3 separate regions of the Homo sapiens genome follow, and regions 1 and 2 are each linked to region 3. The links come from fine-mapping of genetic effects on gene expression. A gene starts in region 3. Each other region holds a variant in brackets. All regions are shown on one strand. Distances are from middle to middle. Region 1 overlaps LOC101929161 (a long non-coding RNA gene). Region 2 overlaps LOC101929161 (a long non-coding RNA gene). Region 3 holds the start of SLC34A2 (solute carrier family 34 member 2).

What was found. PIP is the estimated chance that this variant, and not a neighbour inherited with it, causes the effect. A credible set is the group of variants that fine-mapping cannot tell apart.
Region 1: its variant is the best candidate, but not a certain one, in a credible set for the expression of SLC34A2 in lung (TOPMed, PIP 0.58).
Region 2: its variant is the best candidate, but not a certain one, in a credible set for the expression of SLC34A2 in nasal epithelium (TOPMed, PIP 0.85).

The regions. Positions count from the first base shown.
Region 1 is chr4:25,533,683-25,539,446 of GRCh38, reverse strand. LOC101929161 (a long non-coding RNA gene) reads left to right here. Exons shown (of 4, transcript NR_134641.1): 3 at 4,164-4,257. Among named protein-coding and RNA genes, the nearest start is that of SLC34A2, 120 kb to the left of the region's middle. RefSeq lists an enhancer at 3,682-4,222. The variant G/A (reference allele first, on the strand shown) is at 3,003.
Region 2 is chr4:25,560,302-25,566,065 of GRCh38, reverse strand. The region is part of intron 1 of LOC101929161 (a long non-coding RNA gene); the gene reads left to right. Among named protein-coding and RNA genes, the nearest start is that of SLC34A2, 93 kb to the left of the region's middle. The variant C/T (reference allele first, on the strand shown) is at 2,916.
Region 3 is chr4:25,652,698-25,658,461 of GRCh38, reverse strand. It overlaps SLC34A2 (solute carrier family 34 member 2), which reads right to left and starts at 2,611. Exons shown (of 13, transcript NM_006424.3): 1 at 2,572-2,611. RefSeq lists an enhancer at 2,248-3,161.

The DNA.
Region 1 (5,764 bases), 120 kb after region 3:
CAGTGTCTCTGAGTCAATGAGTGCACCCTGTCGCTCAGCCTGAAGTCAGATGGAAATCAGGAGAGACAGTTAAGCTGCTGATAATTAAGGGGTTAGAAGTGTAAATCAAAATGAGCATTGTTTTATGAGTCTCTTTTTATTACTTTCAAGTTTTATTCACCTGATAAGGTAAAAAGAGAATAAAAACAATCAAGAAGGCGAGTCCTTCAATACCCAGGTTACTGCAGCATTTTTTTCTCATTGTGTTTTGTGGACAGATTAAGTATTAAATTATAAAACTAATCTGTTCAGATATCAGGAATAGTGTCAACTTTGATAAAGATTCACTCACTCTGAAGATTACTTTCAAAATGACCTGATCTGACTCAATGAATAATTTAACAATTGATTTTCTGGCAGAAACACTAAAGAATGAAAGACAAGGCCTCCTAAGATCATCTTGGGAGGAAAAATTTCCTTTTTGCTGAGACCTTTATTTCACCTTTAGTTTGCCTGCGATTGACTTTGATGGGAAGATTCCACCATTAGTTCCTGATGGACCAGAGATTTATAGCTTTTCAAATAGATGCTATTTATCTTGATGCGAAGATATATATCGAGGGAAGGGTTGCTTATCGTGTGCCTGAACCTGGGTCAGGCACTAGGGATGCAGAAGCCAGCAGTGTGCATGGGTCCTTACCCTGGCAGAACTTAAGGTCTGGTGGCAGAGGCAGCAGACAGACAGAGACTCAGATGCAGAGTGAGCAACACTCTGGAAACCTAGAGGAGGTACTCTTCCTTCATACTCAGGGACACTCCTCAGATAAGTGCAGGAAGCACAGGAAGTGCAAAGGCCAGGGGGAAAGAGAACCATGGCGCCTGCAGGGATCTGCATGCATCTGAGCAATATTTGGGTGGAAGTTTACCGGAAGCCACAAAGGAGCAGTCAGATGTTCTCACTGTAAGTGCAACAGCCACGGATACCAACCAATACAGGAATGTGTTATTGCATTAATGGTGAAAATACTACAGGAGCCGTTGTCATCAGAAAATTTCATAATTTTCTAAATTATTGAACAACCCTCAGGTAAGTTCTCAATCTATGAAAGTATAATCAGCGTTCAATTTGTGTAGTATTTGCTTTTCTAGAAAATTCAGTATATAGTGCGTATAAAAACTGTAAAAGGCAGGGCACGGTCGCTCATGCCTGTAATCCCAGCATTCTGGGAGGCCGAGGCAGGTGGATCGCGTGAAGTCAGGAGTTTGAGACCAGCCTGGCCAACATGGCCAAACCCCATCTCTACTAAAAATACAAAAATTAGCCAGGCCTGGTGACTCGCACCTGTGATCCCAGCTACTCAGGAGGCTGAGGTGCCAGAATCACTTGAACTCGAGAGGCAGAGGTTGCAGTGTGAGCTAAGATTGCGCCACTGCACTCCAGCCCGGGAGACAGAGTAACATTCTGTCTCAAAAAGAAAAAAGAGAAAAGAAAAGAAAAAAAACTGTGCAAAAAGTACTTTCAGTATGTAAAAATAGATTAATGTTCTAGAAACAGATTTTATATATACATATATATATTTACTTATTTATTTATTTTTTGGACGGAGTCTCAATCTGTCGCCCAGGCTGGAGTGCAGTGGCACGATTTCAGCTCATTGCAACCTCCGCCTCCCAGGCTCAAGTGATTCTCCTGCCTCAGCCTCCTGAGTAGCTGGGATTACAGACGTGCACCACCACACCCAGCTAATTTTTATTTTTAGTAAAGACGGAGTTTCACCATGTTGGCCCGGCTGGTCTTGAACTGCTGACCTCAGGTGATCCCCCTGCCTCATCCTCCCAAGGTGCTGGGATTACAGGCATAAGCCATGGCATCCAGCCTAGATACAGATAATTATATCCTCATTCACCTATGTATGGAATGTCCGATCAGATGTTCAAAGGTCATGCAAGATTCAGGAGAATTTTTTTTTTTTTTTTTTTTTAGACAGAGTCTCACTCTGTAGTCCAGGCTGCAGTGCAATGGTGCGATCTCAACTCAAACCTCTGCCTCCCCGGTTCAAGTGATTCTCCTGCCTCAGCCTCCTGAGTAGCTGGGATTACAGACACCCGCCATCCTGCCTGGCTAATTTTCATACTTTTGTAGAGATGGGGTTTCACTATGTTGGCCAGGCTGCTCTTGAACTCCTGACCTCAGGTGATCCACCTGCCTCGACCTCCCAAAGTGCTGGGATTACAGGTGTGAGCCACTGCACCTGGACAATTCTTTCATGTGTTGAGTTGTTCTGTGTGTTTGAGGATGCCTGGTATCACAGTTCCCCGTACACTAAATGCCTCAGTGCCTCACAAACCACAAGACACCCCCAGGGAGTGGAGCCATCGTTGTTGGCTGAGGTTAGTGTTCCTGGTCTCTGTGCCCACTCTTCCCCATGGGAGAAGGAGTGACTTTTGATTGGTGAGTTTGGGAGAACCTCATCTCTTCTGTATAAATGCCTGGGAATTCCAGTTCTGCCCAGGACTGATGGGAGAGTTAACTCTAGGAAAGATAGCAAACCCATTAGGCTAATTATGTAAAGACATTCTCTACGCAGCTTTGTCAGCAATAAAGCTGACATTTTTCGCTCTCCATCTGCCTCCTCTCATTTTTCAAATGCTTGAAAGAAGCATTGAAGAAAGAAAAGAGCATTTGTTTATTGCCCCTCCACACACAGCACATTTGGAGAAAAGGATAGTCATTGTTACGCCAGGAGGGTTGGGGCCATCCAGGATGCATGAGTGGAGTGAGGCGTAAAGACCCACATAGAACCTCATCACATAGGCTGTGGCTTCTCAGAGGCCCAGGATTCTGGAGAGGAGCTCTTGGGGATTCTGGGAGAGGAGATAAGAGGAGGGAAAGTGCCACCCATGATTTCAACCATAGCAACTGTGGTTTTCTGTGTTTTATATTGGGTTCGAATATACATAAAATCTCATTTGTTTAAAAAAAAAAAAAGGTTCCACTGCAAAAAGAAAAAAAGAAAATGTTC[G/A]GCAACATCTGAGCTGAAGAGTTGGCAGAGAAAAGAAGAGCCCAGGAAGAGTGATAAGGAAGTGCCAAAAATGCAAGAGGAAAGAGGAATATTTGCAGACCAGGAAGCTGAGGAATGGAACTTTTCAAGAGGCAGAAAGTGGCTGAAGGTTGGGTAACACCATAGGGAGGTCAGGGAAGAGGAGGGCAGAAGAGTGACCACAGCGTTTATTGACATTGTGATCTTGGCAGGAACAGGCTCAGGGCAGTGTCAAGGGCCAACCCTAAATGGCAGGGGATTAAGAGGTAAGTAAAGAAGTGAGGAAGTTGAGACCATTTGGACTTCACTGTAAAGAAGATGATGGAGTCCTGGCACAGTGGCTCATGCTTGTAATCCCAGCACTATAGGAGGCCGAGGTGGGCGGATCACCTGAGGTCAGGAGTTGGAGACCAGCCTGACCAACATGGAGAAACCCTGTCTCTACTAAAAATATGAAAATTAGCTAGGCACGGTGGTGGGCACCTGTAATCCCAGGAGGCTGAGGCAGGAGAATCGCTGAACCGGGGCGGGTGGGGGTGACAGAGTTTGCAGTGAGCTGAGATTGCACCACTTCACTCCAGCCTGGGTGAAAGAGCAAAACTTCATCTCGAAAAAGGAAAAAAAGAGGAAGAAGATGATGGACCCTGGATGGTATTAGTTTCTCCAGTGCCTACTGGTTGTCAAAAAGGTCCATGCACAAAGGAAATTAAGTCGCTGCAATGTGCTGGACAATAGAGTATTATTCATGGTTGAAACAGAGAAATCCTTTTTCAAATGTGGTCGAAATAGGAGAAGCAAGGGGTCTGGGAGGAGTAAAACAGCACATCTTTGCCTGCTTTTCTGAAAGGACTGGTTGTAACCATTTTGTTGTTGTTGTTGTTTCATATTGAAGATAGCATTAATCTTTCTAGGAAGTCTGTAGTTCAGATGGGAGCTGCAGTTAACAATGCCCCCTCTGTTGCTAACACGTTAATGAATGTTGAATCAGCAGGAGAGAAATGACTTCTCCTCCCCCATATTCCATGTCCTGCTGATAGCAAGGACATACATGCTGCTGACTGGCTGCCTAATGGCCCATGGAATTCACTGAGGTGACATGGTTAGTGCTGGAGACCTCAAAAGGGCTTCTTCCTTCATTCTTAGACCCAGAGGAAAGCACTGGGAGGAATGAGAAAGTAGCGACTAGACAAAAATGAAAACTCTTTAAGAAGCATTGCTGAAGTTACAGGGGAAAAAGGTAAGAGTCTTAATGGTCATTTTTCTAAGTGCAGCTCTGAAATTGAAATGATGTTTGACCACTCCCACACAAAAACATGGTGAAGAGTGAGATGTGCTTGCATGGCTTTCTGAACTCCACTGGGCAGAAGACCTAACGAGACATGTTAGACCACTGGAAGGAACAAAGGCCCGTGTTCTTCTTCTGGCTCCAGTTCTGAGCTCGTAAGCCACTCTGTTTTCCACCAGTTGCATTCTCTGTGTCTTCATCCACTCATCAACAAAGCCAAATTACAGGCCACTGTGTGGATAATTCAGTCAAGCCTGCCATGTTGCTCAACCAACAGAAGAGAGGAGATTCAAAGGTCAGATGGGAAAGGTGCTTCATGCACTTAAGTTTAATCTCTTAACAACCCGGACAGGCATTATTACCCATTTTACAGATGGTAAAACAGGCCAAGAGAAACAAGTCACTGGCATAAAGTCCCTCAGCTGGTAAGTGACAGAGCTGAGTCAAAAGCCCAGATATGTCTAGCTGTAAATAGTATAAAATGAATGAGTGATAATTGAGTGAATGATAAAAATAAGGAATTAAACTTATGTTTTAGAGATTTTAAGTCTTATTAGGGACTTTTTTTTTTGTTTTCTTTTTTGAGACGGAATCTCACACTGTCGCCAGGCTGGAGTGCAGTGGTGTGGTACCTCTATTCACTGCAATCTCCACCTCCTGGGTTTAAGCGATTCTCCTGCCACAGCCTCTGGAGTAGCTGGGATTACAGGCTCAGGCCACCATTCCCAGCTAATTCTTTTTTTTTTTTTTTTTTTTTGAGACGGGATCTTGTTTTGTTGCCCAGGCTGGAGTGCAGTGGTGCAATGGTGGCTCTCTGCAACCTCTGCCTCCCTGCTTCAGCCTCCCGAGTAGCTGGGACTACAGGTGTGTGCCACCATGCCCGGCTAATTTTTTGTATTTTTAGTAGAGATGGGGTTTCGCCATGTTGGCCAGGCTGGTCTTGAACCCCTGGCCTCAAGTGATCCACTTGCCTCGGCCACCCAAAGTGCTGGGATTATAGGCGTGAGCCACCGCTCCTGGCCTAATCAGGGACTTTTGTTTCTTTCCCTGTTTACTTTCAGAATCACTTCTTTGCCCATAAACAACTGTGAGCCAGACAGTCCTGTCAATGGTCAGAGATTCAGTGCTCAACAAGTGATAAGTAGGCAAGCTCTGGCATCTCCTTCCTGCGGCACAAAAATCTGTGCAAGATTTATGAATCTTAAATGTCCACAAACCATGGAAAATATTAAGTGGAAAGCAGATTACACTATTTCGTTGTTAAACACATTTTGATATATCCACAAAATGGAATGCAACCATTAAAAAACATGATGTTAAAGAGTTACGAATGGTTTATTATAATGTAAAGTGGGAAAAAATGTGTGTGGACATTATTAATAATAATTGACATTGGGAGATGAGATCGTGGAGAATTTTTTTCTTCTTTTCTGTACTTTCTTGTGTTTCCAAAATTTTC
Region 2 (5,764 bases), 92 kb after region 3:
CCTCTGCCTCCCAGGTTCAAGCAATTCTCATGCCTCAGCCCCCCAAGTAGCTAAACTGCAGGCACATGCCACCATGCCCAGCTAATTTTTGAATATTTTGTAGAGATGGGGTTTCACCAATTGGCCAGGCTGGTCTCGAACTCCTGACCTCAGGTGATCTGCCTGCCTTGGCCTCCCAGAGTGTTGGGATTACAGGCATGAGCCACTGCACCCGGTAGCTTTTTTTTCAATCAAAACTCTAATCCCGTTCACTGAAAGGAATCTTTCTGATTAGCCAAGTGAGGTATTGACTTCATACCCACTTCCCAAGTCAATCAGAACGGTCTTTGCCTTTTCATCAGGATTTCTAAACAGCAATAGACATTCATAGGGAAGGAAATGAGCATCTTGTTAAATCTTCACAAATACTCTGATAAGCAAAAATTCAGGTCCATGTTATGCAAACAAGGAAACTGTGGGTGAGGGAGGTCTCAAGATCTCACAGCTAGCAAAAGCTAGAGTGGGCACTCCTGCACAGGTCAGCATGGTTCCAGAACACATGCTCTTTCCATTATACCAGGATGTCCCCTGTGTCCACATGTGTGTATAAATACTGCACTGAGTCACCCAATCCACGTATTGTTATTTCAGTTTTTATCGATGCATCGACACTCTTCACAATATGATTCTTTTTTATTTTTTATTTTTTGAGACAGAATTTCGCCCCTGTTGCCCAGGCTGGAGTGCAATGGTGTAATCTCAGCTCACTGCAACCTCCTCTTCTCAGGTTCGATTGATTCTCCTGCCTCAGCCTCCCGAGTAGCTGGGATTACAGGCATGCGCCACCATGCCCAGTTCATTTTTGTGTTTTTAGTAGAGGCGGGGTTTCACCTTGTTGATCAGGCTGGTCTGAAACTGCTGACCTCATGTGATCCACCCGTCTCAGTCTCCCAAAGTGGTGGGATTACAGGCATGAGCCACTGAGCCGGGCACACGATACGATTCTATGTTAGCCATGAAAGGTCATCTAGTGGTAGCATTGTGCCGAGCACGGCCCTGGTAGCTTACTGTAACAAACTCGTGGTTCCCCAGCAGTAGGTACTGTTGTCATCTCCATTTCTGAGATTAAAAACAGGCTGGGCCAGGCGCGGTGGCTCACGCCTGTAATCCTAGCACTTTGGGAGACCAAGGCAGGTGGATTGACTGAGCTCAGGAGTTTGAGACCAGCCTGGGCAACACGGTGAAACCCCATCTCTACTAAAATACGAAAAATTTGCCAGGCGTGCCAGCATGTGCCTGTAATCCCAGCTGCTTGGGAGGCTGAGACAGGAGAATTGCTTGAACCTGGGAGGCGGAGGTTGCTGTGAGCCGAGATCTTGCCACCGCACTCCAGCCTGGGTGACAGAGCGAGATTCCATCTAAAAAAACAAAAACAACAACAACAAAAAAACCTGAGGCTTAGGGAGTTTAGGTGACTTGTACAAGTCACATGGCTAGTAAGTAGTAAAAAGAGGGTTTGAGCCAGGTGCAATGGCTCACACCAGTAATCGCAACACTTTGGGAGGCCAAGGGGGGAGACTGCTTGAACCCAGGCTGTGTTAGTGCCACTGCACTCCAGGCTGGGTGACAGGGCAAGAGCCTGTCTCAAACAAAACAAAACAAAAAGAGGGTTTGAACCCAGACTTTCAGTCAATCAGTATCCTTATCCGCCTTAACCACTAAACTATACTGCCTCTACCCTACTTGAGGAGGAAGAGTCATTTTACATTTTAATAAAGCATCGGCAGATAGTGTCATATTCATAGCAGGAAATTAATAAATATGGTATTAATTGGTAACGGGGGGGAGACAATCAAGGAAGGGAGGAAATAACAAATTACTAGGTGGGCAGGTAGTCAGAATGGTCTGGTGGATTGTCAGAGATCAAAGATGTTTGGCCGGGCATGGTAGCTCACACCTGTAATCCCAGCACTTTGGGAGGCCGAGGCAGGCAGATCACCTGAGGTCAGGAGTTCAAGACCAGCCTGGCCAACATAGTGAAACCCTGTCCTACTAAAAATATAAAAATTAACCGGGCGTGGTGGCACACACCTGTAATCCCAGCTACTGGGGAGGCTGAGGCAAGAGAATTGCTTGAACCTGGAAGGCCAAGGTTGCAGTGAGCCGACATCACGCCCTTGTACTCCAGCCTGGTGATAAGAGCCAAATGCCGTTTCAGAACAAACAAACAAACAAACAAAAAACCAACTGCAGGGTCAAAAGCCTTTGAGAAAAAGCTGTGATTATCCAAATGTAGTGTTGCCTTCTTGTTCCAGAAAACTGAACTGAGGGGCTGGAAAGAGGGAAGAGCTCCTGGACACCCTTTCAGATCTGAAAAACTGGCCCTGCCTGTTTGATCTAATGCCTTTGAAGGGTTAAATCAGCTCCTTTGGCTCTCCAAGCATTCATTCAACAACAATAAAAAAATTTTTTTGAGATGAGGTCTTGCTCTGTTGTTCAGGCTGGAGTTTAGTGGCGTCGTCACGGCTCACCGCAGCCTCAACCTACTGGGCTCAAGTGATCCTCCCACCTCAGCCTCCCAAAGTGCTGGAATTACAGGCATGCACCACCACGTCCAGACATTCAACAAATATTTACTTAGAGATAACTCCATGCCAGGCACTGGGAACAAGCAAAGGCCCAAATACAGCCCCTGCCTCATGGAGCTTACATCAGAGGAGTCATGAGTAGAATATGATACTTCGGGTGAGGCTAATTGCTATGAAGGTAAACAAAACCATAGCAAGAGTAACAGGAGAGGAGTGCATTTTAAATAGAGTACTCAGGCCAGGTGCTGTGGATTATGCCTGTAATCCTAGCACTTTGGGAGCTCAAGGCAGAGAGATCACTTGAGGTCACGAGACCAGCCTGGGCAACATGGCGAAATCATGCTGGCA[C/T]GTGCCTGTTGTTCCAGCTACTAAAGAGGCTGAGGCAAGACAATCGCTTGAGGCCAGGAACAGTGGCTCATGCTTGTAATCCCAGCACTCTGGGAGGCCAAGGCAGGCAAATCACGAGATCAGAAGTTTGAGACCAGCCTGGCCAACATGGTGAAACCCCTCTCTACTAAAAATACAAAAATTAGCTGGGTGTGATGGTGCATGCCTGTAATCCCAGCTATTCAGGAGACTGAGGCAGGAGAATCACTTGAACCCAGGAGGTGGAGGATGCAGTGAGCCGAGATCGCGCCACTGCACCACTGCACTCCAGCCCAGGTGACAGAGTGAGACTCCATCTCAAAAAAAAAAAAAAAGAGAGAGAGAGAAACACATCATTAGGCAATTTCATCATTGTGTGATCATCCTAGAGTGTACTTTCACAAACCTAGATGGCGTAGCCTGCTACACACCTAGGATATATGGTACAGCTACAAACCTGTACAGCATGTGACTGTACTGAATACTGTAGGCAACTGTAACACAATAAGAAGTATTTATGAATCTAAACATAGGAAATTGTAACACAATGGGAAGTATTTGTGTATCTAAACATAGAAAAGGTACCATGAAAATACAGTATTATAATCTTATGGCACCACAATCATATATGCAGTCCATTGTTGACTGAGATGTTGTTATGTAGCACATGACTGTATATATTTCACTTACTTGGAAAATTGTAATATATGTATTTTTTCACTTAACTTAAAACATATATATTTTATATATACTTTTATTTGAAAAATATGTGTCTATTTCACTTACTTGAAAAGACATCAAATGAAGCAATTAAGAACTTAAGGCCAGGTGTGGTGGCTCATGCCTGTAATCCCAGCACTTGGGAGGCCGAGGCAGGTGGATCACCTGAGGTCAGAAGTTCAAGACCAGCCTAGCCAACATAGTGAAATCCTGTTACTACTAAAAATACAAAAATTAGCCTGGCATGGTGGTGCACACATGTAGTCTCAGCTACTTGGGAGGCTGAGGCAGGAGAATTGCTTGAACCCAGAAGGTGGAGGTTGCAGTGAGCCACGATCATGCCACTGCACTCCAGCCTGGGCGACAGAGCGAGACTCAGTCTCAAAAAACAAATTAAAAAAAGAAAAGAATTTAGGCTGGGCACAATGGCTCACACCTGTAATCCCAGCACTTTGGGAGGCCAAGGCGGGTGGATCACGAGGTCAGGAGATCAAGACCATCCTGGCTAACGCTGTGAAACCCCGTCTCTACTAAAAATACAAAAAAAATTTAGCCGGGCATGGTGGCAGGTGCCTGTAGTCCCGGCTACTCGGGAGGCTGAGGGAGGAGAATGGAGTGAGTGAACCCAGGAGGTGGAGCTTGCAGTGAGCTGAGATCGCGCCACTGCACTCCAGCCGGGGTGACAGAGCGAGACTCCGTCTCAGTAAGTAAGTAAATAAATAAATAAATAAATAAATAAAATAAAATTTAAAAATAAAATAAATTTAAAAATAAAATTAAAAAATAAAAGAATTTAACAACTGGGTTCTTGAGTCAGGCATCCAACCTTTGGCCTGAATCCTTTCTACTCTCTCTCTGTATGGCTTGGGTAGAAACATATTCCTTTATTTTTATTTTATCTTTTTTTTTTACCTGCCACCTATTCTTTGCAGAAACATATTTCTTTAACACTCCATTTTTGAGTTTGTAAAATAGAACTAACAAGAGTGCTGGTCGGGTGCGGTGGCTCATGCCTGTAATCCTAGCACTTTGGGAGGCTGAGGCGGGAGGATCACTTGAGGTCAACAGTTGGAGACCAGCCTGGCCAACATGGCAAAACCCTGTCTCTACTAAAAATACAAAAATTAGCCGGGTGTGGTGGCAGGCACCTGTAATCTCAGCTACTCAGGAGGCTGAGGCAGAATAATCACTTGAATATGGGAGGTGGAGGCTGCAGTGAGCTGAAATCATGCCACTGTACTCCAGCCTGGGTGACAGAGCCAGACTCTGTCTTAAAAAAAAAAAAAAGTGCCTATGGAATGAGGTTATAAGGTTGCTTGAGCATGCACAGAATAGCTGCTCAATAAATGGTAGCTACTACATTATTATCACTATTATTAATATTAAATACCTACTCTCTGTCCAACATTTTGCACGTATTACCTCTATTCATTACCAAGAACCATAGAAGGTAAATATTATTATCCTCAAATACAGATGGAAAAAAATCCCTCAGCTGGAAAGGTTGAGGAACTTGCCCAAGGGGAAGGGACAGCTCTCAGGAAAATCTTTCAACAGTCCTAGGTTCCCATGACCACACCCACCGTGACTTTGCCTTCTCCAGTGAGCATATGTAACAACCCGTGACGTCCATGGTCTTTTCTTGCCCGCACACACGCTACGTTAAGACTCTCTCTTTGTTTAGAAATCACTCTCCTTGATTTGCACTCCGTATCAGGGTTCTTTCTCTGTTTAGAAATCACTCTGCTTTGATTTGTTTGTTTCTATTAAAGAACTGGAAAACCCTTGTCCTTGATGTCTGAATGGCATAAGAGTTGTGACTGCATGGCCCCACGGCATCACAATTTCTGCCCCATGATCATAATAAAAGGAGTTGGGACCTCTGCCCTGTCAGAGCAGTAACCCATTGGGTCTTGGCAGGAGGGCCGGGTCCCACTGTGTCCTCATCCCAGACATTGAGAGTAATGGAGGTGGAAGGTGCCTCAATAGGAAGGATGAAAGCAGCAGAACTGCTACTTGGGTACGAGAACGAATAAAAAATAAGGGAAACCCCTTTTTTTTGTTTTTTGAGACAGCATCTTGCTCTGCCGCCTAGGCTGGAGTGCAGTGGC
Region 3 (5,764 bases):
ACCAAGACCTGTTCCTGGGCCCCTTGTGCCCAGAGCAGCAGTCAAGGCCATCTGAAGAAATGGGGAGAGGAGGAAGCCCAGGGCAGTGGTCCTGTGAGGAACCAGAACATGGACACACAGTCTCCCATCAGAATGGCAGCCTTCACAAGCACAGGGACTAGAGTATGGCCATTGTATCCCCAGCACATAGGACAGTGCTGGGCACATGGTAGCCAAGTAGTGTTTATTAAAGACTTTGTGCCTGGCACTTGCAAATTGGTGCACAAATTTACTCACAGCATTTCATGTATCTATGTAAACTTAGAGTCTCCTTTAAAATGAACAGTATCCTCATTCTATAGAGGGAAAAACTGAGCCACAGAGAGGTTAATGGCTTCAAATCACATAGGCACCACAACACTGCAGAGATAATTTCAACCTCATGCAGGCCAGTGTTCTCGGGATGCCCAGGAAAACTTTCTTGTACTTTGAAAGAATGACTCTGTGCTTCAAAAATTCCCAAGAGGGTGACGTCTCCTTTTCCTCTGCTTCCCTTACAGCCATCACAAGGAAAAATAATCACCCCTATAGGCTAAGGGTGGTGGCTCACACCTATAATCCCAGCACTTTGGGAGGCCAAAGTGGGAGAGTCCCTTGAACCTGTGAGTTTGAGACCAGCTTAGACAACATAGTGAGACCCTGTCCCTACATTACTGCTAATAATAATCTCTTCAAGGACACAATGGTGGTAGTGATGAGAGGAGTCAAGGAAGCAATTGGCCTGGGCCTCACATTGATAGATAACTTGAGTTTACATTTTTGATGTGGCACACTAATAAACTTTAAACTTGGGCCATATCACCAAACCACACCCTCACCATGCACTATCAATTTGTATTTATGATATCTTAAAATAAATCCTGTAAATAACTTGTAACTATATCAGTTGTGCTGCATTGTATTGGGGGGGGAGGTTAAAGCAGTTAAATTTGTAAATATAAACATCTTAAAAATACCGCAATCTTTTTATAGCCCTCTTTTTGTACCTTTGCATTTTAAAAATTCACTGAGATGAATAAATTCCCTGGGATGTCCTGATTGCTCCCTGCGGTCCCCAGAATGGAAGTGGGGGTGTGGGTGAGGATGGAGGAGTGGAAGATGCCTGAAACTGGTTACTAAAGCCCAGTTTATTCCAAAGCACTCTGATTCTGTGAGGCTGTTTTCCTCATTGCATTGAATTCGGGCTATTTTTTTGTCCCCTTTGTGTCTAACAGCAACAATCAGAAGCCCATCCTCATACCACAGGGGACTTGCTTCATTGAGACAGTTGAGCAATTTGGGGAGTTTTGGATGGGGCAATTTGTTTAGCATCCAAACCTTTTACAAAGCACGCCTTTCTTATCACCCATTCCCCAAATTACAAAAGCAGAGAAGATCATGATCAGCGGGCATGGGACAAAAGAGGCAATCTTTTTTATTTTTGTTTTTCTTTAACAATCTGAAACAACGGCCACTCCTACAAGCACAGTTTTCCAAGAATACCCAACCCAGGACAAGTTAAAGAACTGCCAGCACACAAGGGAAGAAGGAAAAAGGAAAGAACGACAAGGCCCAGAGCGATCAGGGCTAACACAGAAACCCCCTGGGGCACCCAAACAGGAAGAGGGGACTCGAGTGATGAAATCCACAAGCTGCTTCCATGAAATCAACATGTTTGAAAAAGGGACCTCCTCAAAGAAAACGAGATTCCAACTCTCTTCAGCGCAGTGCGAGCCACCGGTGGCAGGCACCGTTGCAGGGAACCTGAACTAACTCCATGCCATGCAGCCCCCAACTTTCTGGCCTGAGGATGCGCAGTCCCCGAACCCAACCACTCCTGTGCACATCTCCTTGTAAGTTATCTCCCCAGCCTGCTCACCCATTTGTGGCTTGGAAAACATAAATTGCGGGCTTTGCTCCCCAAGACGGCTGAAGGACGGACCCTTCGCTGATGGCCACGGGCCCTAATAGAAACAAACTAAGACTGTCTCCTAGGCACCTTAAATAACTGCAAACAAGCACTGTACCACGTGGAAGTCACACTTGGGTGGGGGGCAGTGTCACATCACCAGGCAGCCACCACAAACCTAGAATTTTCATGGTCCTGAGATGTCGCATTCCCCTTCTTATAAAGAATGGAAGACGGCAGCCCAGGGGCTCACAGGGACTAGCGTTGTCACATGGCTAGTTGGTGACCCAGCCACAAAGAGCCTAGCTATCCTGATTCCTAGGTGGAGATTTCTATCCCCTGGGCCTTTCCTCTTCCAAACCACGACTCTCAAAACAGTGATCATTTTAGAATCCACAAGTGTGGCTGATTAATAACACTGTCGATCGTAAGAGTGTAGCAGCAAAAGCTGTAATAAAAGCAATAACCGTAACATTAAGAAGAAAACAACTTGAACATTGTGGAGAGCTTTGTGTTTTTCACTTCTGCGGCCCAAAGCCAGCCAAGTTCCTTGAAGTCAGCACCGAGAGGTATTTGCAAGAATTAAGTGAATCAAAGTCCTTGAAAGAGCGAGGAAGCGCCCCTGCCCCGGCGGCGGTACTCACCAGCGCTCCCTCCGCAGGTGCTGGGCTGGAGGCGGCGGCCAGGTGGAGCGCAGCGCCCCGGGTATATATGGCGAAGGTGTTGCGCAAAGAGGCTGGCCGCTGTCATCACGCCCCTCGCACATTCCAGGACCGCCTGCCGCAGCCGCCGCCGGGGCACTGCCTACCTGCCGCCTTAATGAACCCATCGCGACTTCGCCCGCTGCGCGGAGAAGACGCGCGGCCAGCCAGGCTGCCGAGAGAAAAGCTCCGACGGGCCCCGCCGCGCGAACTGGCCCGAACGGCCCCAAACGGCCCCGCGCCCCTCGGCGCCCCGCGCGCCCTAGCCTGGCTGGTGCGCGCCCTCTCCCGCCCCGACTCGGTCCGCACGAGATTCCCGCAAGTGGGGCTCTCCCGCCCCTGCCTTCTCCTCAAGAACTTGAACCTTCTAGTCTAGCTCCTGTGAGGCTCAAGAGGTCAGAGACGTGAAGACACAGATAAAAGCCAGTTGGAAAGTCAGGGATAAAGCCCTTGGAAACAAAGCCTGGATTGTTCACCTTTATCAGTCTGTGGGGCGCTTTCTGCCCTGGGAGTCTGGGCTCTAGGTCCGCAATGGGAAAGGCTGGGACCGTCAAGCTGAGGAAAAGGAAGGGGGCTGTTCTCACCACTCCGTCCTAAGCCTGCTGCGGGTTTGGCAAACCACTGCGCTCGTTTCACATCCTGCTCTGCCTCGTGTCACCTGCGTGTGTATACAACAGTTCTCCAAACTGCTGTGAGATAGGATCTGTCCCAGGGAGAGTCCACCCCCATGCTTATCCCAACAGCTCCCCAGTTCTGTGCCGGGCACTGCTGGGCAGGCTTTGTCTCCAATGTGCACACGAAAGCCTTCCCTGGGGCTAAGACTGGCGCCCTCTCTAGCTGAGGTTTAAGGGGTTAGGGGATATGATACAATTACCCAGGATTTGCTGAGCAGGAAGAAAACCTGCTTCTTATTCTGAAACCCAGACCCTCTCCTCTGCTGCGCACTCTCCTGGTTTTATAGTGGAGCACAGTGAGGCTCAGTGAGCTTACTAGTTGCCCAGCTCCTCACAACAGCGGAAGCACCCTACTGGAATTAGCTGGTTTCATTCCAACATCGAGTTCTCTCCACTGTGCAAGGGGAAGGACTCGGGAGCACGACTTCCAGGAGCCTAGAGCTCTGGGGCTGGTGTTGGCGGTGGCTAAGCACACTGACTCTGGGCCGAAACTCCGGGAAATCAGTTCCCTGTTCTGCCCCTTGCTTTCCCTGGCTCCATTTGCTTATGTGCAAACTGGGAATAATGGTCCCCGTTGGAGTAAAGTGAGCTAAAATATGTAAAGAATGTGGAATGGTACTTGGCACATAAATAGTATTCAGTGCGAGTTAACCATGATCGTTTTCACAGGGAAACTCTGGTGTTGGGAGAAGATGGGTGGGAAGCCTTGATTAGACTCATCTAGAACCTTCACTGGAGAAATCAAATCTGCTTGGGTTGCTGTTATTACAGGGATGATGGTTTTGCTAGTGGGTGTTGGCCTTCAGATCCAACTCTCAGACAATGATCAACCAGTACCTTTGCAACAAGCAGCTTCTAAAGCATAGTCCACTGATGACAGGAATCCCCTGGCACCTGTTCACCAAGCTCAGCTCTGCCTCCAGCCCTGGGCAAGGCGGACTGCAGACACCACTTGGCTTTACAATGAGGAAGGGCTCTACTGCCAGGGTGCAGAGGAGGAAGCGTGCTGCACACACTGCTGTCGGTGAACTCGACCCGGATTCGGCAAAGCCTGGCTCTTAGTTCATGTCCTGCTCTGCCCTGTGCTTGGGGGTTCACAGGAGCAGGTCTTAACAGGACAGTCACCTCAATGAGAATCCCCTCCTGACTGTGGGCTTTCATTTGGGACACAGACCTAATTGCCTTTCCATTACTTTCAACAAGGAGTGAATGTAGGAGGGAGACCAAAATTTCAAAAACTTGGAGAAAGAAAAAGGTATCCCTTTTGTGTTCCGATTAAAAAGGCAAAACAGGTTCAATCCCGAACATTGTTCTCTTAATGTGTATAGATCTTGGTAGTAGATCAGGGATGGTATCTGATTCTAGTTTGGGATTGTAATTTATATAATTTTTTTTTACAAAGTCTGGAGGAAAGGTAGATGGCGTGTCTGTGTTCATCACTCTATAATCTCTCCCTTTAGGAGAGTACAATTTGCTGAAGAACATTTTCCTATCGTTATTCCATCTGAGATACAAAATACTCTCACCATTTAGTACTTCAAACATAGAGCCTTATGTATAAATACAAACATCTAAAATACTTTCATCGAGGCTGGGTGTGGTGGCTCACATCTGTAATCCCAACAGTTTGGGAGGCCGAGGCAGGCAGATCACTTGAAGCCAGGAGTTGGAGACCCGTCTACCAACATGGCGAAACCCCGTCTCTGCTAAAAATATAAAAAAATCCCAGCTGCTCAGGAGGCTGAGTCACAAGAATCACTTGAACCCGGGAGGCGGAAGTTGCAGTGAGAGCTAACTGCAATCCAGCCTGGATGACAGAATAAGAATCTGTCTCAAAAAAATTAAATTAAAAAAAAATACTTTCATCAAAAAAGTGTCACCAAACCGGGCACAGTGGCTCAAGCCTGTAATCCCAGCATTTTGGGAGGCCGAGACGGGCGGAACACAAGGTCAGGAGATCGAGATGATCCTGGCTAACACAGTGAAACCCTGTCTCTACTAAAAATACAAAAAAAAATTAGCCGGGCATGGTGGCGGGTGCCTGTAGTCCCAGCTACTCAGGAGGCTGAGGCAGGAGAATGGCATGAACCTGGGAGGCAGAGCTTGCAGTGAGCCAAGATCGTGCCACTGCACTCCAGCCTGGGCGACAGAGTGAGACTCTGTCTCAAAAAAAAAAAGTATTACCATTTTTTCAACTCATTTCAGTATATTTTTGCGCCTATTGTCCTATGAGGTGAGATTTAACAAGTTGGTAGGCTCTGTGTTAATCTGGAGAGGAAACACCCCATCCAGGGCTGGCTGCTACCCAGCTTCAGATATTGCATGAGAAAATATAGTCAGATGCTGTCAGATCTTGACTTTTGTGGGGAAGCCAGATATACAGGTCTTTATGTGAAATGTACCATTAAAAAAATACGGAGTAGGTCAAACAAAGCAGCTCTGTGAACTACTGATTTTCATCC